Linked DNA regions of Homo sapiens. The protein of the gene in region 6 interacts with the protein of the main gene of each other region in a biochemical or structural test. Each region holds a gene or a part of one and is shown on either strand. Other genes may lie near its edges. The genes, in order: PTOV1, PRKN, SNCA, YWHAE, CCNL2 and DYRK1A.

Region 1 (3,500 bases), on a different chromosome or scaffold from region 6:
GGGGCTCCAGGCCTGCCAGTTTCTTACATGGAGGAGGCTTTAAGGACATTTTCAGGTAACAAAAGGTGGGGCCCTACCGAGGGGAGTCCAGCTGGGACCTGGCATGAGCACTTTAGACATTAGCCGGGGAACACACAGGGAGGGCGCTGTGTGGCCCCCCGAGAGCCAGCTGGTGAGCCCACGAGCCTCAACCGAGGGGCTGGCTCAAGGCCAGGTGTGACCCCTGAGGACAAAATCCAGCTCAGGTTCTGTGACACTGAACTTGAACCCAAGGCCTGCGGGTCTGGAGATTCGGGGGGGAAGAGGGTGTGGACAGCCGAGAGCCAGACCCAGTGAGTTCCCGGGCTGTCCAGCCTGCTGGGCCACCTTAGAGCTAGGGGGCTGCAAGGCATCGGGCAGTGAGCAGAGAAGGCAGGCAGGTTTTTAAAAGGCTTTATTGGGGAAACGTAGAGGGGTGGGGACCGTCCTTGGAGGCCTCAGGACACCATCCTCCATGTTGCTGGGCAGTTGAAGTCCCCAGGGGCCCCTGCTCAGAAGCGTGTCACCTGGGGGCAGGGGTGCAGTGGGGGCTGCTGGCCACAGGCTCCCAAGCACTGACCCCACATCCCTGTGAGCAGAGGCCTGGCCCCACCCAGGCCTGGATACCACCTCCCATGGCCCTGAGGCTGGGCTGCAGTTTCCCGACAGCCTAGGACCGCTGGGACTGCTGCCTCTCCCTCTGCTCTGCTCTCCCCAAGGCCAAGGTCGCCCTGCTTCTTTCCCAACCCCACCCCCCCCACATGCCCCAGGGTCCCTCCTGTACATGACAGGGTCACCACTCACCAGTCTCTGCGGGGGCCTCATCTGTGACTCCTGGAGGGGCCCAGCCCGGGGTAACCACTACCCCCCCATCTACGGCGAGAAATCAGAGGCCAGTGGTGAGCAGGCAGCGGGGGTGGAGGGAGACTGAGCAGCCCTGGAGGCCGGCCACCTCACCCCTCGTTGCTGTTGCTCCTGCTCCAGGTTCCGCTGCAGGACCTGCTGCTGGTTGGCAATGACACGCCGGATGCCGTTGACAAAGTTGCCCTGGTCATGGGGGATGAGGCCAATGAAGATTTTCTTCTCTGAAGAGTACAGGAGCATAAGCACGCGGATCTCACACGATGCTTTGTAGGAAAAGTGCACGCAGCCGGCCTGGCAGGCACAGGGCGTGGTGTCACCAGACAGCACCACAGGGACCAGCATCCCTCCAACCACGGCATCATGCCGTGGGCTCCATGAGCCAGGCACAGCCTAACTGCTCTGTCCTCACACCCCCCACCCACCCTGGAGGTGGGCCCCCTTATTGGGATGACACGGTGGCCAAGAGCAATGGGTGGGCCAAAGGCCAACAGGCTCTGTCGGGAAGGGCCCAAGAACCTGCATTTCAGAGCTCCTGGGCAGGCCAGGCTGTGTCTGGGGCCACCTCACCACAGCCACCTGAGCCAACCGGCCATGGCTTCAACTCAGGAGCCCGAGGGATCTGCAGCGGCCGGCCCAGCACAAGCAAGGGCTGAGGTACATGGAGCCTTTCTGGGTTTCCTTGAGGAAACTTTTTTTTTTTTTTTGAGACTGAGTTTCGCTCTTGTCGCCCAGGCTGGAGTACAATGGCATGATCTCAGCTCACTGCAACCTCTGCCTCCCGGGTTCAAGCCATTCTTGTGACTCAGCCTCCTGAGTGGCCATCATGCCTGGCTAATTTTTGTATTTTTAGTAGAGACGGGGTTTCACCATGTTGGCCAGGCTGGTCTCAAACTCCTGACCTCAGGTGATCCACCCGCCTCGGCCTCCCAAAGTGCTGGGATTGCAGGCGTGAGCCACCGCACCCGGCCCCTGAGGGAATGCTTGAAATTGCTTTCATGTAAAAGCACCTACACCCAGGCCCCCCCCACCCACGAACAGCTTCGTGGACAGTTTACTCAGACTGAGTCGAAGGTAATTTTAAGGTAGTTTCGGGATATTACCCAAGTATGGCCCAGCTGGAAGGTGGACATCGGGGGGAGGGCTCAGAAACACCAAAGTCCAACCTTCTCCACCTCACAGATGGAGAAACTGAGCCCGAGAGAGAGAAGAGGAGTCAGCTGAGCCTCCCCCAGATAAGACAATCGCCAAATATTCTGGGACCTTGCTGGGGGCAGACAGCCCTCCCTGCCCAGCAATGGGCCTTTGGGATGTGGCACAAGCTCCCGGGAAACCAGGAGTGACAAGGGCGCCTGTCCCTGAGGAGTGGAGAGCGCGGAGTTGGTGCTGAGTCAGCCCTGATGTGGCAGAGGAGGAGCAGGCCCCCGCAGAACCAGGGTCAGTGCCCCATCCAGTGCCGTGGGGACAGCACAGAGCCCCCAGAAGTCACGCCCACACTAGCCACCCTCTCTCCCCAGCTGGTCTGGGACATGGTGCTCTGTTCCTCTCCCATGTCCGCCCCCGTGAGCGGTCCGGGCTCGCTCTGCCCTGGCCGGCCCCTCCCCTGCGTCTGCTGGCACCACTCACGAAGCCATTGTCCATGATCCGGCACAGGCTCTTCAGTGTCTCCAGGTCCTTGGTGAAGTGGAACTGGACCAGGCGCGAGTTCCGGAACAGCGGCACTAGGGTGGTCTGCGGGGAAGCGAGGGGACCCCCAGCTCTGGCTTCTCCCACCACGGCCTCCCGGCTCCCAGCCCGCTGAGTCCCCCGGGCCCAGGACCAAACTGAGACTCCCCTGTCCTCCCTACCTCAGGAAACGTCATCTCCACCGCTCAACCAGCCCAACCCTGGAGTGCTGTGGAAGCCGCTCTCAGATCCCTTGGCAGCCCCCCAGGTGCAGGTCGTGGCTGCCCCTGCCCCGCTCAGTCCCTGCACAGCCACCAGCTGGCTGCCTGGGACCCCTTGAAGCCAAGCCTGAGGAGCTACCCACCACACCTGCTTCAGCACCCTCAGCTCCGCTCCCTCACAGCCAGCTCAGGCCACCTGGGGAGGCGCTCTTGCCCCCAGCCCCGCCCTCTGGAAGAGCTACTGCGTGCAGGCTCCAGCACCCGGCCCCAGCCCCTCACCAGCAGCTGCTGCGGGATGAGCTGCATGTACAGCTTCCTTGGCCACTGCTCGGTCCTCCTGTGGGGCACAAAGGGACGAGGGTCAGGAAGCCCCAGCTCCCCTGGATGCTGCCTCCACCCCCCAGCCCAGCACTCACAGGATCTCCCCCTGGTTCACGTAGACGTGGGATGGCAGCCACCTCTTGGACCGACTGTTGGGCTCAGGCCTGGGCTTTTGGGGGAGAGGCAAAGAGGAGCCCTCAGGGCTGGAGACCCCCAATGCCAGTGTCCCCTCCCAGCCACAGTCCGTGAGGATCTGGGGGTCCCAAGTCCCTGGGCTGCCGAGTGCTCACCTCCTGCCACTCCATGACACCACTCCATGCCAGAAACTTGTTGTTGACGATCTGGACTGGGCCTGAGTTGACACCACCAGGTCCCACTGCCTGTTGGAAGGGAACGGGGTGGGAAGAGGGGCCC
Region 2 (3,500 bases), on a different chromosome or scaffold from region 6:
TTCAATGCCAAGTTAGTCAAGGTTATGTGAAATATAGCCCATATTTTATTTTTTGTCCAATCTTCAACATCTCTCTTCAGGTTCTAGAAGAACAAGAACCCATCCTTTTTGGCAAGCATTCTCTATGCTCATTCCCCTATTCCTCCATCTACAGAATCCTACCTCAACTCAATTCATCCAAGAAGTTCTTCCTGGTGACTTCCAACCAGATGTGTTTTCTCCACCTTTAAAACTTCATAATATTTTCAGGTGCGATACGGCAGTTATGTTTCATATTCTTATATTATAGCTATTAGGTTGAACAACATGAAATTGTTGAACCTGTAAAAATGGCAATCCCATATGGTTCAATCTAATATTTCTCTCGGTTTTAGGGCTCATAAATAAAGAGCAGTCTCCATGAAAACAGGGGCTGAGTTAGGTCTCTCTTTTGGATCCCCTGAGAAGCCTAGGACATTGGAAGTGCTTAAGAAGTGTTTGTCAAAATAGACTCATAAATCAACACATGTCTTAGGCATATATGTTTGCAAAGTCAATCATCTGAAGCAATTAGTCTAACTACATATGAAATCGCTAATTGTTTTATGAATCAGCACAAATGGCAGTTTAGAACCTGAAGGTTTTGGCAATATAAAATGTTTTGATTCAAGGAGCTGTTTTAAAATTATTTATTTGTGAAGGAAACATCCTTGGATTTAGAGGTTGGCAGATACAGTGAAAATCTTTTTAGTTGACTGAAATAGAAAAAAAAAAAATCAAAACCCTTTTTAGCACATGCACTTCCCTTATAAAACCAAATTGCCTGAAAGCAGAGGCCAGCAGTTTGTGCACAACGAGTATGTGCCTCAACACCATCAGCAGGAGATGCAATGCAGAATGACAGGAACAATTTGCATTTCTGTAGCTTCTTTGTATACCCAAATTCTGAGAGCATTTTACAAAGCCATAAATATCGTTACCCACAAGAGACAGGGAAAGGATGCAGATACAAGGACGGACTTTGTGTACTCTGACCCAGGAGCCCCCCTGCGCGGAGCAGTGATACCCACACAGCTGTAAACCTGAGTGCAATTAATTGATGCTGGTTAAGAAAAGGGGAACATACATCTGCAGGGTCCTTCACAGTCACAGGGACCATTCCCAGAAAGCGTTTCGTCTTTCTTGCATTCACAAAGAATAGCGTCAACAAATGTTGAGTTGTATTTGCGAGTTTCCCCAACAAAGGACGGGTCTCTAGTTCTAGGTGATGGTGGTATTATCAGTCACCTCACCAGTCCCCCTAATTCCTACAAAAATCACCAATCCGAATGACATGTGTGTAGGGCTTTCATGGGGCTAGGAGCAGTGGGCTGCCAGAAGCTCTGCTGGGGCCAGGAGAGAAGAGAGCATCGTTCACACTTATTACGTTGCAGGGGCCTATTTCCAGGGACAATGTTACTGAACCTTGGAGAAATTCATGCAAAGGTATACTGTTGTTGTGCTCCAGGCTTCCTTCCCCATCAGCTGCAGAACTGTGCGATTCTGGTCCTGGCCAAGGAGTGCCCAAAGCTAGTTGCCAATGGGCCCCGGAGCCCACACCTCCTCTAGCGCAGCATAGCAGCAGCCCTCACTAACCTCCAGGGGTCACAATTGGGTTACAAATTCCTCACAGTGCAGGGACTGAGCAGCCTGATTGGGAACAATTTATTCGAATCCTTCTTCGTTAAGATTCAAATGGAATAAGTAAGGTAGAAATTGAACAGACACAGAAATTGTGCCTTGCTGCTCCTGTAGTCAGTAGACATTTATTCACTAAGCCTAGCTCGTGTGTTCTTTCTCTCTCTCTTTCTCACTCGCAGTTGTTCTTCCAATCTTTCCTGCTTGCTGTTTTAATGCATAATTAAGAAGGTCAGAATTAATGAAGCAGTGTGGAGTAAAGTTCAAGGAATCCCCAGGCACTATTTATTCTATTAGATCTCAGGCATGAATGTCAGATTGGCAGCGCAGGCGGCATGAGCAATGGAGCTGGCGGCATCCCAAGAACGGCCGCCAAGGGAGACTCACCTGCACAGTCCAGTCATTCCTCAGCTCCTTCCCTGCGAAAATCACACGCAACTGGTCAGCCGGAACCCCCTGTCGCTTAGCAACCACCTCCTTGAGCTGGAAGATGCTGGTGTCAGAATCGACCTCCACTGGGAAACCATGGCTGGAGTTGAACCTGACAAACACTGACCAAGGAAATTGGAAGGGAGAAGAGAAAGTGAGCATCACTCGAAGCCCTTAAATGGTGATAGCAACATTTCTCAACCGATTTACCCCTCGCAGCCCTTCAGTGAATGGTATATATTTTCTTTCACTTACAACAAAAAACTTAATGCTATAGAGCAATATTTGGGAAAAACAGAGTTAGTTACCCACGAGATTTCCCTTTCATATATTCGTCAGTGACCTGCAAACCAAAATTGCATTCTCCCTTTGACATCCATCCTGGGAAACAGAGAGACTTGAGCAGGACACTTGCTTGATTGGAATTGAAAGAGTCCCATGAGTTTATTGAAAAGACTCAGCTCTGACAGCATGTACACACTCACACTCCCTCCACAGTGACCCTCTTAATAAAAATAGGAGGCGATGTGTTAGCACTCAAGGTATAGCAATGGAAAAAAATCTAAGCTGCTCTATAGACCAGAGTGAAGACCCACTCGGGGCTATGGCTCAGAGCCCTAGACTTGGGTGGTCCTGGCCAAAATGCTCCACTGGGTCTATGAAGACAATTATTTGCCCTCTTTTTGGCAGGGAGGGGGTGGAGACACTAGTGACACCATTTGTCTTATTGAAGCCACTGTTCCCCGTGAGACCCAGGCTGCATCCTCTAGTCTGTCTGTCTGCATGCCGTCTTCTCACTGCACCTGCTGTCCCACCTCTTCAGCGTCTCTCACTGCCCTTTACTTTCCATTCTTTCTCTCACTGCTTGAAGTCACGCTCTCATCACATCTTTTCTAGAGTCTCATAATAGCCCCCAACTGGAGTCTTGATCCACGCCATCACCTCCAAAAGGCCCTACATAGTTCTGCAAAATGAGCCTTATTAATACAGAGCTATGTCACACCACTCAAATCCTTTAAGTCTCACACTGTCGGCTGGTGAGGAAAGACTCCAAGATCCCTTTCATCTAGCACAAACCTACATTCCAGCATTTTCTTCATTAATCTCCATGTGTACTCTTTTAAACTAAATGCTCCCAGAAAAAAAAAAATCACAAAAAACTGCTGCACACAACTTCTTGCTTTTATTCATGACCTCCCTCCTTCTCCTCTTCCTATTGAAATCCTGCCTACCTCCATGGCCCACTTCAAATGTGACCTCCCCCAAGAAGCTTCTGGCTATCAGCTACTGCAAAAGCCTGATCTTCCTTATTCAGGGCACCAGTGGCATTTACTATATATGTCTTTTAATATTCACCACATTCCTCATGGAAGCAGGATAGCACACGGGTTAAAAGAACATCCTGAAGCATTAGG
Region 3 (3,500 bases), on a different chromosome or scaffold from region 6:
TGTGTTTTTTGCAAGATTCTTCACCTCTGTGTGATTTAGCTTCCTCATCTATAAAATAATTCAGTGAATTAATGTACACAAAACATCTGGAAAACAAAAGCAAACAATATGTATTTTATAAGTGTTACTTATAGTTTTATAGTGAACTTTCTTGTGCAACATTTTTACAACTAGTGGAGAAAAATATTTCTTTAAATGAATACTTTTGATTTAAAAATCAGAGTGTAAAAATAAAACAGACTCCTTTGAAACTAGTTCTGTTAGAAGTTAATTGTGCACCTTTAATGGGCTCTGTTGCAATCCAACAGAGAAGTAGTTAAGTAAGTGGACTATGATGCCTTCTAGGGACCTCCTATAAATATGATATTGTGAAGCATGATTATAATAAGAACTAGATAACAGACAGGTGGAGACTCCACTATCTGAAGACGGTCAACCTAGATGAATGGTGTTCCATTTAGTAGTTGAGGAAGAACCCATGAGGTTTAGAAAGCAGACAAGCATGTGGCAAGTTCTGGAGTCAGTGGTAAAAATTAAAGAACCCAACTATTACTGTCACCTGATGATCTAATGGAGACTGTGGAGATGGGCTGCATTTTTTTAGTCTTTTCCAGAATGCCAAAATGTAAACACATATCTGTGTGTGTGTGTGTGTGTGTGTGTGTGTGCGTGTGTGTGAGAGAGAGAGAGAGACTGAAGTTTGTACAATTAGACATTTTATAAAATGTTTTCTGAAGGACAGTGGCTCACAATCTTAAGTTTCTAACATTGTACAATGTTGGGAGACTTTGTATACTTTATTTTCTCTTTAGCGTATTAAGGAATCTGAGATGTCCTACAGTAAAGAAATTTGCATTACATAGTTAAAATCAGGGTTATTCAAACTTTTTGATTATTGAAAACTTTCTTCATTAGTTACTAGGGTTGAATGAAACTAGTGTTCCACAGAAAACTATGGGAAATGTTGCTAGGCAGTAAGGACATGGTGATTTCAGCATGTGCAATATTTACAGCGATTGCACCCATGGACCACCCTGGCAGTAGTGAAATAACCAAAAATGCTGTCATAACTAGTATGGCTATGAGAAACACATTGGGATAAATCGGCTGCTATCATAATCATTCCTCTCCCACATCAGATAAATGAATTAACTTTTTGAATAGGGTTATTTAATATAAAGTGCTTAAGTCTAATTATGAGAAGAAATAAGATAATTACACTTCAATGGTTAAAGAGAGGGAGAATAATTTGCATATTATGCCTGATGTAAAATGTTTATTATGGGTACATATTAAGTGCTAACTAATTGTTAATTGTTCTTGCTACAAGTCTTAATGCAGGGAAACAAGAAATTATTACATAGTACCTAATATTATCTTCTAATATTAAAGAAACAATTTCCCCTAAATTCATCCCATTAGCTTTTTTTTTTTCGGTGGGGCAGGGGAGAAATACAGACTTCAGTAAACTTGGGCTGGGAACTTTCTACCTACAAAGTTCAAATAAAATAAATTATCCTAGTTAGATAATATCAATGAAAAATCCACCAACTTAAATCCTGGCTGTTTGATCTCAGGAAATTATTTCAGTTATCAACTTAATGCATCATATTATAGAAATATATGAAAATGTGTTTAATTAAACTTACTGAATGATATGTTTTTTCAGGTACTTTAAAAATAAACTATGATATAAAGTTACCTATTTTTCATGCAAGTATAGTATAAAGAAATTTCTAACACTGGAGATTTTCTGAAGGTTTTGATTCTTATAAATTTATTACATCATAATGAACAAAACTAATTTTCAACATATTATGATTTAAATTTCCTTAGTAAATTGTTTCAAATTTATTTTCTTTAAATCCATATTTACATATGTATATTTAAATATACATATTTACTTGTATAACAATTCAAAACCATATATTAATTTTATAATTTTGTTTAATGTCAAAGGTTAGATTTGGCTATATCTATTCTAAAAGTTGGTATCACATTTCCTTTTTGGAATTTTATTTTTAAAGTAGCTAAAGTCAAATATAAACCTATTATTTATATTAATGCAGACATTAGAGGTAGACACTAAATTCATTTTAGTATATTCTAAATTATTTATTATCTACTATGAAATAATATAAAGAAAAATAAAGCAGAATCCCTGATTTCAAAGAACTCAATTGCCGAAAAACAGTTACCATTTATTAGACCCAAAATGTACTAATATGAGTGTGTCTCTTTTCCTTTTGTTTTGTCACCCGTCATTTGGAATGTCAGTGAGTAGAGAGATAGTGTGAAAGGCCCTCAAGGGGAAAAATAGAGGTTAAAGGTCAGCAGAGACCCTACTAGAGAAATCAGTTCTACAGAAATGTTTTTAAATGTGTCGATTATTGCTACATGTACACTCTGTCATTTTGTAATGTAGCCATTTTATTTATGATTATAATAATAAAACAACAAAATTATAATAATGTGTAGAGTACATTTTACTGTGCAGTGTATTGCATTAAAACTAGATTAAAATTTATACATATATAAAAGGCTATCTAGATATTATAAAATTTATGGCTGGATCTGTAAAAAATTCAAAACCTATTTTTAATCTCGCTTTGAGATTTTATAACAAGAAAATGTTCGTTTCAAGCAAAATTTTCAATTCACGTCCTTGAAAAGGAAAAAAATGACAACTTGAAACACATAATTGACTATTTTTAAAGGATCAACATTTCAGAAATGTTTTAAAACATAAGATTTTCAGTACAGCTTTTCGCTGGCATTTAAATCGAACTTTGAATTGTAAATAGCTCTTGCTCTTAAGGAGACATCAGCCATATCCTTAGAAGTGGCACGGAGTTGTTAGGTAGTTGTACAAAATTCTAGCCTAAAAGACAAATAGGGAGCAACACTACTGTGGACCGTTTCTGGTCTTGGGCTGTGTGGCTATGTCAGGCTTGCCCACATTGCCTGTACTAAGGAGAAAGCCTCTTGTCCTTACAGACCCCCTTAGCTTACATAGTCTATTTGAAAACAAATTGCTTTGTCCACACCATTTAAATATTGGCTTCAGGCCAGGCGCGGTGGCTCACGCCTGTTATCCCAGCACTTTGGGAGGCTGAGGCGGGCAGATCACGAGGTCAGGAGATCGAGACCATCCTGGCTAACACGGTGAAACCCTGTCTCTACTAAAAATATAAAAAAATTAGCCGGGTGTGGTGGCGCGCACCTGTAGTCCCAGCTGCTGGGGAGGCTGAGGCAGGAGAATGGCCTGAACCCGGGAGTCGGAGTTTGCAGTGAGCCGACATCGTGCCACTGCACTCCAGCCTGGGTGACAGAGCAAGACTCCGTCTCAAAATAAATAAATAAATAAATAAATAAGTAAATATTGGCTTCTTCAACTGGTGAGATGAAACCTATACAATAGTCATGTGAATAGCACTAAACAGCTGACATGGTGTAACTCCTCTCAGACTGAGGCTTATCTGGGGAGTACAAAGCATGTC
Region 4 (3,500 bases), on a different chromosome or scaffold from region 6:
AATCTAAAATTAATATCAAAACAACTATATACCAGCTCAACATGACAAAATTATTATTTGGGAATAATCTGGACGACCTTTACTTTGGATATGCAAATTTACAGATGTAAGATTAAGGATTTTGAGAATATTTCTTTGTGCATATCTTACATAAGGACTAAGCCCAGAAGACTACACTTGCTAAGAATAACTCAAAAAGGTAGGTTATCATCTAATATGATCCTAGCACAGCAGTAACAAAAACAATTATCTGACCTTTCACATTAGATAAGAATGTTTCACAACAAATAGTACCGACAAGTATTACACTTTACAGTTTACAAAAGCCCAAAATTTCATAACCACCCTGCAAATTAGTAGGCAAGAGAGACATCACTAATCCCCATTTGAAAGATAAGGAACCCAGTGATTCCTGTGCATTCTGTGATGGCAGATTTACCACATCTGCCAAATGATGAAATACTGTCATAACTCTTACAGTAATGCATCTCCTTCAAACTTTAGATATGAATGAAGAGTTAAACACATTTCATATTGCTTTAGCTCGATAAAATCCTGATCTGATCACAAATCAAGCCCACCAACAACAGATCCGTCCAGCTACTATGGTAGATTGTTGGAAGGGCAATAAATTCAAGATAAAAATTTCAGAAGAGATAAGCCAGGATCATGGTCATATGGTCTGAACTACACAGTTTGGCATTCTAAACATAACAGTTGTAACAAGATATGGGTGAGCCTTTAAATTTTTATGTGGGTATTTGGTATGAAAGACACTTGTAAAAATAAAAAAATAAAATGTATGTAGGGAAAGCTCTGAGCTTAGGACACTGCTACCAACACCTAGGTCTATTATATTTTTAAACACAGAACTGGCTCAAGGTAGCCATAAGAAAACCAACACACTAGGTGTTGACACCATCAGAGGATTTGGAATGCCAGCAAGCTCTATTTTCAGCAACTACCACATCCTTAACTAGCACGTTCCCATTTGTGGGGGAGGGAGCTAGGAGGAGGAAATTTTCACTTTTCCTTTGACTTATATTCTGCCAAAGGCTAACTTCATTTGAAAAAAAAAAATTCAACCTCCTAGAGACGTAGATCTAAGCTATCTCTGTGATAAAAAGCTGGACAACGTTTAGGAAACTGTTGTATGAGTCTAAATGACAAAATCTAGTAACAAATGGCCATTAAGTAGGGTGACCACAAGGCAAGTTTGTTGCCCAGGACAATCCCAGTTTATGCCTGCTGTTGTAGCTGATGAATTAGTCTGTCTTTTCAAGATATACTCATGTGGATGTTAAATTATGGTGACTTTCATTATTATTTGCTACAATTTAATAAATTTAAATGAACATCTGAAATTGTTCTTAGGGCCATGACTAGCATTAACATTTAGTCAGAGAACCATGAGGTTCTGTTGGCAACCAATTCGTCAATTTGGATATATCAATACCTAAATATATCAAGCTGGCCGGGCGCAGTGGTTCATGCCTATAATCCCTGCACTTTGGGGAGGCCACAGTGGGAGGATCGCTTGAACCCAGGAGTTACCTGGACAACACAGTGGGATCCCGTCTCCACAAAAAAAAAGTTTTAATTAGCTGGTCATGGCGGTACCAGCTACCTGGTGGGAAGATCACATGAGCTCAGGAGTTCAACATCAGCCTGGGCAATCCGCTGGGACCAGGCCTCTACCAAAAAAATTTTTTTGCCAGCCATGGTGGCTCACGCCTGTAATCGCAAAACTTTGGGAGGCCGAGGCAGGTGAATCTTGAGCTCGAGTTCAAGACCTGGGCAACATGGTAAAATCCTGTCTCTACAAAAATTAGCCAGAAGTGGTGGTATACTTCTGTAGCCCCAGCTACTTGGCATGCTGAGGTGCCCAGGGGGTCAAAGCTGCAGTGAGCCATAAATGTGACACTGCATCCCAGCCTGAGTAATATACTGAGATCTTGTCTCGGGAAAAAAGAAAAAGAAAAAGAAAAAAAAGTTCTTTTAAATTATCCAGGTATTGTGGTGCACAGCTGTGGGCCCAGCTAAGTGGGAGGCTGAGATGGGATGATCATTTGGGCCTGGGAGGTTGAGGATGCAGTGAATCGTTACTGCATCAATGCAATCCAAGCCTGGCCAACAAAGCAAGACCTTGTCTCAAAAAAGTATATGTATCTATCTCAAACTGTTAACTGACCATTTCAAAAATAGTGAAAATAGCCATTTTTCTTGCTGCTCTTTCCTACTCCTTAATGGATTCCATTAGACAGCTATCTAGCCAACCACCCGGAACAACACTGGTGAATCATATGCCAACCTTTGTCCCTCCTAGAAGTTGTATGTCTATATCTGGCCGGGTGCGGTGGCTCACACCTATAATCCCAGCATTTTGGGAGGCTGAGGCAGGCGGACTACCTGAGGTCAGGAGTTGAAGACCAGCCTGGCTAATATGGTGAAACTCTGTCTCTACTAAAAATACAAAAATTAGCCAAGCATGATGGCCCAAGTCTGTAGTCTCAGCTACTCGGGAGGCTGAGGCAGGAGAATCACTTGAGCCCAGGAGGCGGAGGCTGCAGTGAGCCAAGATCACGCCACTGCACTCCAGCCTGAATGACAAGAGGGAAAATCCATCTCAAAAAAAAAAAAAAGTTGTATGACTACATCACTAACCTAACAACTTAATAGCATTCACTAAGACAAAGGTGGCCGGGGGTGGTGGCTCACGCCTATAATCCCAGCACTTTGGGAGGCCAAGTCTGACAGATTGCTTGAGTCCAGGAATTCCAAGACCAGCCTGGGCAACATGGTGAAACCCCATCTCTACTAAAACACAAAAGAAATTAGCTGGGAGTGGTGGATCGCGCCACTGTACTCCAGCACTCCAGCCTGGGTGACAGAGCAAGACTCCATCTCTCCAAAAAATAAATAAATAAATAAATAAATAAATAAATAAATAAAATTTAAAAACATACAAACAAACAAAAAAAACAGCTACTTAAGAGGCTGAGGTGGGGGGATCACCTGAGACTGGAAGGTAGAGGCTGCAGTGAGCCAAGATCGCACCACTGCACTACAGCCTGGGTGACCAAGTGAGACCCTGTCTCAAAAAAAAAAAAAGGAAAAAGATAAAAGTGAGAGGAGAAAATATTTTAAAGCTACTTTACAGAAATGCATAGCATCAGCCATATCCCAGTACAGACATTATGATAAACTACGGGGCTTTTCTTTTCTTGAGACAGGCTCTCCCTCTGTGGCCCAGACTGGAGTGCAATGGTGCGATGTGGGCTCACTGCAATCTCCACCTCCCAGGGTCAAGCGATTTCCCACCTCAGCCTCCTCAGTAGCTGGGACTAAAGGCACAAGCCATCACAGGCCAGCTAATTTTTGTATTTTTAGTAGAGACTGGTTTTCACCATGTTGGTCAGGATGGTCTCAAACTCCTGACCTCAGGTGATCCGCCCACCTCGGCCTCCCACAGTGCTGGGATTGCAGGTGTTTGAGCCGCG
Region 5 (4,125 bases), on a different chromosome or scaffold from region 6:
GTTCAAGTGATTCTCCTGCCTCAGCCTCCTGAGTAGCTGGGATTACAGGGACGCAGCACCACACCCAGCTAATTTTTGTATTTTTAGTAGAGACAGTGTTTCACCATGTTGGCCAGGATGGTTTCAATCTCCTGACTTCGTGATCCGCCTGCCTCAGCCTCCCACAGTGCTGGGATTACAGGCGTAAGCCACAGCACCCGGTCTCCCAACAGCACTGGGATTACAGGCATGAGCCACCGCGCCCGGCCTCCCACAGCGCTGGGATTACAGGCGTGAGCCACCTCGCCCGGCCTCCCACAGCGCTGGGATTACAGGCGTGAGCCACCGCGCCCGGCCTCCCACGGCGCTGGGATTACAGGCCTGAGCCACCGCGCCCGGCCTCCCACGGCGCTGGGATTACAGGCCTGAGCCACCGCGCCCGGCCTCCCACCACGCGGCCAAAACTCATTTTCTACTGCAACACCATTTGGGCGCAATGCAAATTAGGAGAACATAAAATCTGGCCTTAAATGGTTCTTTATGTCATAATAATATTTTACAATTATTTAGTAAAAAAAGAAAGCAAATGGAGAGCGGTCTCTTGGGTACAGGTGTGTATGGCCCTTTACTGGTTCTCTTACTTCCAGGCACAGGAAGCTAGGGGGCCCCTCATAGCTGCTCTCCCTGGAAGGACACCCTCCCTGGAGTCTCCTCAGTTCCCCAATTCTGAGGGGGGGTCCCACCAGCTATCTAATGCAGGATTCCATCAAAAAAGTCATCAGGCGTAACTCCCCGTTATCCCACTAGCCCCGGCCTATATGTCCCACTGCCCTAGTAAGTCCAAACGGTACCACCAGGAGTGGGGCCCCCTAGTCCCCAAAACCAAAACTGTGTCCACGGTAAGAGGCAGCTGATGACAGTGGGGGGCACTCAGAGTGCAGGTGCCACCCCCGTGGGGTGACCCTCCAAGTGTCCTGCTCCCAGCTGCCTCTCTCGCCCACAGATGTCATGGGTTACAAACCAGTCCCCCTCAGGAACGAGAGCACCTTGGAATCATTCTGTGTTTCCAAAACTTCCCTCCTATGGCCCTGCAGGAAGGAGCCTGTCATCCTGATGGGCAGAGGACTCAGGCCCCTCACAAGCCTTCGGCAGAAGGGCAGGCACACAGGATTGGATGCAAAATCCAAAACTTCAGTACAGCAGGGAGCAAGGAGCCCGGAAGTGGGCGCACTGGCTGTGCACACGCCTGGACACTTTCACAAGCACACAGAACGACCACCTACCACGTCCATAACGCTCCGGATGTCCTGAGTGGAGAGAGTTGTGTTTATTCACCATGTCATACGCGCATATAGGGAACCTCTATTTAGGAGCTGGTGGCCTGCACTCAGCACCGCACAGATAAAAATATACGACTTTCAACACAGATCCAAATACCCTCACATTTTAAAAGTCAGGATTCCCTACACAAGTTTTAAGCTGACGGGATTCAAGTTCTGAGTTTTCATACATAGCTTTAACTTGTATTAAACACATGTTTATTTACAACGTGGAGAGAGAATAAGGGGCAGTTAAGGCCACTTTCTCCTGTGAAACACTGCAAAATATGTACATAAGTACAACCTAATATAGGCAAAGGTTCTAAAAATCATCTTTCTTGGCTTCACGTAATTGAGTATCAGTCGGGGAGTGGAGAGCGGCTGCCGATAGCACCAGGCCATGCCAGGCCACGCCAACAAGGGCGTGTGCATTCACTTTTTCATTGAGCTGCCCTCAGAGCTGCTGCCGAGCTGAGCCCTGCACGGGCCCAGGTGTGCGCCGCACCCCAGACCGGTCTGAAGCACGTGTCACCGGTCCCTCAGTTCCATTTCCAAATCCACCAAGGTCCAGTCGACAGACATTTCCAAAAAGAATCCTGTTCTAGGACCACTTGCGCTGAGAGCACACCCGGGGGTCAAAGGGCAGCCACCGGGGGTCAAAGGGCAGCCATCAGGTACTCCCCAGGGAAGGGCTTGCGGCCACCAGTCACTGCAACCCCGCCTCACCTCCGATGCCTGCTGTGCCCAGGGTGGTCCCGCTCATAGCGACGGCCTGTGCGTTCATACGACCTCGAGCGCTCTCGTCGCTGATCTCTGTAGTAATGACTTTTCTTCTTGTATTTTCCCGGATTATCCGCCCGCTCCCGTGACCTGCTTCGAGAACGGGAAGAACTCCGGCTCCGAGACTTGTGTGGCTTCTGGGGGTACTTGCAGTCCTTGGACTTCCGGGAGCCCCGAATCTCAGAGCCTTTGTAGGGAGCGCTGCGGGGGGCCTGTCTCGGTGGGGAGTCACTCCTGCTCCGGGAGCGGCTCTGCGACTTGGACCCACCAGATGTGGAGCCGCTGTCACTTTTCCTGGGAGGAAGAACAGCACCACCACACGTGTGACCATCTGGCCCGGCCAGGCCCCACACACCCACAGGAGCTCAGACAAGACACACAAGCTCCAGGTTTAGAGAAACAAGAAACCACCTCAGGGTGAGAATGATTACCCCGAGGGACAGCCCCACCCCGGTATCGGCCTCCTGGGTGCGCCCTGAGGCACACACCTCCTCTTAGGAGACGCTGATCGGGATGGGGACCTCGAGTAGCTCTGCTCACGGCTCCGGCTCCGACTCCGACTCTCTCGCCCCTTTGGCAAGCTGTGAACAGGACAGGAGCCAGTTACAAAGCAGAAGTCCCTCCAGCCAACCCTGACAGCCACCTGGGCAGCCCTGGGGTCCTACCCGTTCACGGGGCTGTCCGCCTTGGCTTTCTTGGCGCCCTCCAGCCTCCTCTTGGTGTTCTTCACAGACAGTGGGGAAGGCTTGCTCCCTTTACCTTCTTTGGGGGATTCCACTAGAATCAGAACAAGAGGTTAAAAGCCAACCACAAAACACTCTCCCAATAAGAAACAAGTTCGTAGAGCGAGATAAGGCCCCTCTACAGGTCAAACAGCGACGCAAGCAGACTGTAACTTCCGGCTCCCAGCTGGGACCCAGAACTTACACAGACATCACAGAAATGCAGATGGGGCTGGACGCGGGGGCTCACGCCTGTGAGCCCAGCACTTCGGGAGGCCGAGGAGGGCGGATCACAAAGTCAATACATTGAGACCATCCTGCCCAACATGGTGAAACCCCATCTCTACTAAAACTACAAAAATTAGCTGGGCTTGGTGGCACGCGCCTGTAGTCCCAGCTACTCCAGAGGCTGAAGCAGAAGAATCGCTTGGACCCAGGAGGCGGAGGTTACAGTGAGCCGAGATCACGCCACAGTACTCACCTGGCAACACAGCGAGACTCTGTCTCAAGAAAAACAAAACAAAACAAAAAAACCCCAAAACATGTGAGTGTGTGTCTCTCTCTCTCTCTCTCTATATATATATATACATAGACACACACTCACACACAAATTACCTGAGCGTGGTGGTGGGCGCCTGCAATCCCAGCTACTTGGGAGGCTGAGGCACAAGAATCACCAGAATCTGGTAGGCGGAGCTTGCAGTGATCCCAGATAGCGCCACTGCACTCCAGGCTGGGCAACAGAGTAAGACTCCGTCTCAGAAAAAAAAAAAAAAAAAAAAAAGCTGGGTATAGTGGCTCCCACCTGTAATCCCAGCACTTTGGGAGGCCAAGGCGGGCAGATCAACTGAGATCAGGAGTTCAAGACCAGTCTGACCAAAATGGAGAAACCCCATCTCTACTAAAAATACAAAATTAGCTCAGTGTGGTGGCGGGTACCTGCAATCCCAGCTACTTGGGAGGCTGAGGCAGGAGAATCGCTTGAACCCGGGAGGCAGAGGTTACAGTGAGCTGAGACAGCGCCATTGCACTCCAGCCTGGGTAACAAGACAGAAACTCTGTCTCAAAAAAAGAAATGCAGGCCGGGTGCAGTGGCTCATGCCTGTAATCCCAGCACTTTGGGAGGCCGAGGCGGGTGGATCACGAAGCCAGATTGAGACCATCCTGGCTAACACGGTGAAACACCATATCTACTAAAAATACAAAAAATTAGCCAGGCGTGGTGGCGGCCACCTGTAGTCCCAGCTACTCAGGAGGCTGAGGCAGGAGAATGGCATGAACCCGGGAGGTGGAGCTTGCAATGAGCTGAGATCGCACCACTGCAC
Region 6 (3,500 bases):
TATTTACAAATGGTAGTTTAATAAATAACCCTGTACGGTAGTGTCCCTTCTTATCCACAGTTCCAGTTATTCAGTCAGTCACGGTCCAAAAATATAAAGTGGAAAATTTCAGAAGCAATTCGTAAGTTTTAAATTCTGTTATGAGTAGCACGATGAAATCTCATGCTGTCCCACCCTGGGCATGACTCATCCCTTCGTCTAGCATGTCCACACAGTAGATAAGTTACTTTGCTTTGTAGCCATCTAGATTATCAGATCAAAAAACATAGTATATAGAGGGTTTAGTCCTCTGCAGTTTCAGGCATCCAGTGGGGATCTTGGACTGTATCTCTTGTGGATAAGGAGGCACCACTGTACATGTCTCATTCACACATAGACATTTTATCTGTGATATAAATTCCTGAAAGCAGAATGACTGTTTCAAAGGGTAATGTGATTTATAATTTTGATAACTATTGCCAGATTGCCCCCCATGTGATTTTCTAATCCAGTAACTTGATTAACTTCATATAAAAACCATATAGTATTTTCTGAGAACTCACTGCCAGCTTTTCTACTGATTGTTTTCAGTAGTATCTCTTAAAAGTTTGGTTCTCAGACCACCTTTGTTGAATAAACCCTTAACAATTTGTGCCAGCCACTGGATAGAGACTGAGCCTTTTGCCTTCCTAGAGCTTACAGTGACACAAGTAAATAAAATGAACATGAAGAAAAATGGCAAGTAGCATTAGCTGTTAAAAAGAAAATAAGGATAATTTGGTAGAGAAAGACTGTTTGTTGGATAGGATGTATTAATTAGAATAGGCCAAACTCTGATATAACAGACCCCCAAAATATGGTAGCTTAAAGAGTACCAAGTTTCCTTCATTTTTGTGCAACAGTCCAGAATAGGTGTTCAGGTTAGTGGCTAGGCCGTCTTCCAGGTCCTGATCTCCTACCATCTTGTGGTTCCACCTTGCCCTAGGGCCTACTTGTCTACTGTGTCCAGCAGGCAGAAGGACTTGGGAGGTATTATCTTGTGTGCCAGGCTAGCAGTGACACAAGCTTTCATTCACATTCCATTGACAGCTTAGACATATGGCCATCAGTAAGTACAAGGGAGGCTGGGAAGTGTTGTGTAGCCATGTGCTCAGGAACGAGAAGAATATTGTGCACAACCAGTAGCTTCTGCCACAGTTGTTGAGGCAGCATCAGCCAGAGTGGTCAGGGAAGGCTCTGGAACTGAAGCGATGAAAAAGAGACATCCAAGCAATAAGAAAATCCAAGAAATAACATTTCTAGGCAGAAGGGAGCAGCGTGTTACTAGTACACTGAGGCATTTGAGAGATTTTGACCCAGGGGAGGAATGGAAGGCAGGTCTTCTTTGTTTGGAACTCAGGTAGCCAGGGATAGGATGGGTGGAGAAAGAGGTTAGAGAAGTGGGCATTGGCCAGATGATGCAGATCGTTGTATCCATTTGGGTTTATTTTGTTTTTCTAAGTGCAGTGAGAAGTCATTAAAGGATTTTAAATAGGGAAGTGATTGGATTTGTGTTAAGAAAAGATTGTTCCTGCTACCCTTTGGAGAAGGGCAAGGATGGAAACAAGGAGTTCATTTAAGGGGCTGTTGTGTTAGCGTAGGCAAGAGATGATGGGGATGAAGAGAAGAGGCCAAATTTGGAATCTGTTTCACAGGTAGACTCATAAGTTCTTGCTCATGGGTTGGACAGAGGCATTGTTGAGCAGCTAGGTAGATAGTAGTCCTTTATTGAAAGAAGAAAGATGGAGAGAGGAAGGACATGAGGGAAAAGTAAAGACTTCCTTTTGGACCTGCCCAGAATACTGTCCAGCCCTTTTCAGGAAATATTTGCTGACCCCTGGCATAAACAGGGCTCCCAAGGAAGGACAGTGGCTAGTGAAATAGATGAACCTATTTAAGGATATAACTTCCTAAAAATTGCAGCTTTCATGATGAAATTTTTTGCCCTTGAATGTATTTGGGATTTTGTGTTATAAAACTGTCTTAACACATTAAAAGTTTCAAAAACCGTTTCCCCCTGATTAATATGATGCTAGTTTGTTAGTGTCATGGCTTTTGATGGAAGATTAAAGCTTGGAAACAGTCCTCTGAAAAATCCTTTTAAAAATCTGTTCTTTCAGGTGCGTCAGCAATTTCCTGCTCCTCTTGGTTGGTCAGGCACTGAAGCTCCTACACAGGTCACTGTTGAAACTCATCCTGTTCAAGAAACAACCTTTCATGTAGCCCCTCAACAGAATGCATTGCATCATCACCATGGTAACAGTTCCCATCACCATCACCACCACCACCACCATCACCACCACCATGGACAACAAGCCTTGGGTAACCGGACCAGGCCAAGGGTCTACAATTCTCCAACGAATAGCTCCTCTACCCAAGATTCTATGGAGGTTGGCCACAGTCACCACTCCATGACATCCCTGTCTTCCTCAACGACTTCTTCCTCGACATCTTCCTCCTCTACTGGTAACCAAGGCAATCAGGCCTACCAGAATCGCCCAGTGGCTGCTAATACCTTGGACTTTGGACAGAATGGAGCTATGGACGTTAATTTGACCGTCTACTCCAATCCCCGCCAAGAGACTGGCATAGCTGGACATCCAACATACCAATTTTCTGCTAATACAGGTCCTGCACATTACATGACTGAAGGACATCTGACAATGAGGCAAGGGGCTGATAGAGAAGAGTCCCCCATGACAGGAGTTTGTGTGCAACAGAGTCCTGTAGCTAGCTCGTGACTACATTGAAACTTGAGTTTGTTTCTTGTGTGTTTTTATAGAAGTGGTGTTTTTTTTCCAAAAACAAAGTGCAAAGCTGCTTGAATCAGGAGGAGATTAACACACTGAACCGCTACAAGAGGGCAAAGCTGATTTTTTTTTTAACTTGAAAAGATTGCAAAGGGACATTGAAGTGTTTAAAAGAGCCATGTCCAAACCCATCTTCATGGATAGCTCAGAGGTATCCTCTTTTTGCTCCCCCATTTTAACTTGCCACATCCCAGTCACAGTGGGGTTTTTTTGTCTTTCTATTCAGCAAAAGTTAATATTCAGATGTTGGTCTTGGTCATTTGCCAACTAATTTTAAAGTAAAAGGCACTGCACATAATTTGCATAAAGGGCCCCATGAGGGTGTTTTTTTTTTTTCTTTTTGTCCCCCCCATCCCCCTTTTTTTTTGTTTTGTTCTGTTTTGTTTTGGGTGGGAGGGTGGGAAATTTGGGTTTTTAAGTCCTCTAAACACACTTGGGCACGGAAATGCAGTACTGTAAGGAAGAGGGACCTCCAGCTTCCACAAACACCATCTTCAGCTGTATGAAAGGGACGGTTGTGGTGAAGTTTGTCAGGCACAGTAAGCATGCTGAGTGGCGGGGATCAGAACTCTCCTATCTGAACCTACTGAGGAGCAAAGCAGCAATTACATGGGATCCTGTGGCTCTCCCGTTGCAGAGGCCACAGGAAGATAGGATGGAACGTGACTGGTC

What was found.
Region 1: of the proteins of DYRK1A (region 6) and PTOV1, one has a biochemical effect on the other in vitro, tested with the Homo sapiens proteins (one study listed by BioGRID).
Region 2: of the proteins of DYRK1A (region 6) and PRKN, one has a biochemical effect on the other in vitro, tested with the Homo sapiens proteins (one study listed by BioGRID).
Region 3: of the proteins of DYRK1A (region 6) and SNCA, one has a biochemical effect on the other in vitro, tested with the Homo sapiens proteins (one study listed by BioGRID).
Region 4: the proteins of DYRK1A (region 6) and YWHAE form a complex in vitro, tested with the Homo sapiens proteins (one study listed by IntAct).
Region 5: of the proteins of DYRK1A (region 6) and CCNL2, one has a biochemical effect on the other in vitro, tested with the Homo sapiens proteins (one study listed by BioGRID).

Annotation. Positions count from the first base shown.
Region 1 is NC_000019.10:49,857,659-49,861,158, reverse strand, and holds the end of PTOV1 (prostate tumor-overexpressed gene 1 protein), read right to left. Parts: intron 3,467-3,500; coding exon 3,377-3,466; intron 3,256-3,376; coding exon 3,182-3,255; intron 3,103-3,181; coding exon 3,045-3,102; intron 2,813-3,044; exon of another isoform or gene 2,732-2,812; intron 2,611-2,731; coding exon 2,506-2,610; intron 2,317-2,505; exon of another isoform or gene 2,071-2,316; coding exon of another isoform or gene 2,056-2,070; exon of another isoform or gene 1,983-2,055; intron 1,954-1,982; exon of another isoform or gene 1,870-1,953; intron 1,174-1,869; coding exon 976-1,173; intron 892-975; coding exon 880-891; coding exon of another isoform or gene 840-879; 3' UTR 417-839; downstream 1-416. UniProt on the Homo sapiens protein: May activate transcription. Required for nuclear translocation of FLOT1. Promotes cell proliferation.
Region 2 is NC_000006.12:162,441,267-162,444,766, forward strand, and holds part of PRKN (E3 ubiquitin-protein ligase parkin), read right to left. Parts: intron 2,208-3,500; coding exon 2,044-2,207; intron 1-2,043. UniProt on the Homo sapiens protein: Functions within a multiprotein E3 ubiquitin ligase complex, catalyzing the covalent attachment of ubiquitin moieties onto substrate proteins. Substrates include SYT11 and VDAC1.
Region 3 is NC_000004.12:89,823,662-89,827,161, reverse strand, and holds part of SNCA (alpha-synuclein), read left to right. Parts: intron 1-3,500. UniProt on the Homo sapiens protein: Neuronal protein that plays several roles in synaptic activity such as regulation of synaptic vesicle trafficking and subsequent neurotransmitter release.
Region 4 is NC_000017.11:1,390,223-1,393,722, forward strand, and holds part of YWHAE (14-3-3 protein epsilon), read right to left. Parts: intron 1-3,500. UniProt on the Homo sapiens protein: Adapter protein implicated in the regulation of a large spectrum of both general and specialized signaling pathways. Binds to a large number of partners, usually by recognition of a phosphoserine or phosphothreonine motif.
Region 5 is NC_000001.11:1,385,211-1,389,335, forward strand, and holds the end of CCNL2 (cyclin-L2), read right to left. Parts: intron 3,838-4,125; exon of another isoform or gene 3,740-3,837; intron 3,534-3,739; exon of another isoform or gene 3,416-3,533; intron 3,301-3,415; exon of another isoform or gene 3,282-3,300; intron 2,856-3,281; coding exon 2,744-2,855; intron 2,660-2,743; coding exon 2,567-2,659; intron 2,373-2,566; coding exon 2,021-2,372; 3' UTR 501-2,020; downstream 1-500. UniProt on the Homo sapiens protein: Involved in pre-mRNA splicing. May induce cell death, possibly by acting on the transcription and RNA processing of apoptosis-related factors.
Region 6 is NC_000021.9:37,509,773-37,513,272, forward strand, and holds part of DYRK1A (dual specificity tyrosine-phosphorylation-regulated kinase 1A), read left to right. Parts: intron 1-2,138; coding exon 2,139-2,759; 3' UTR 2,760-3,500. UniProt on the Homo sapiens protein: Dual-specificity kinase which possesses both serine/threonine and tyrosine kinase activities. Exhibits a substrate preference for proline at position P+1 and arginine at position P-3.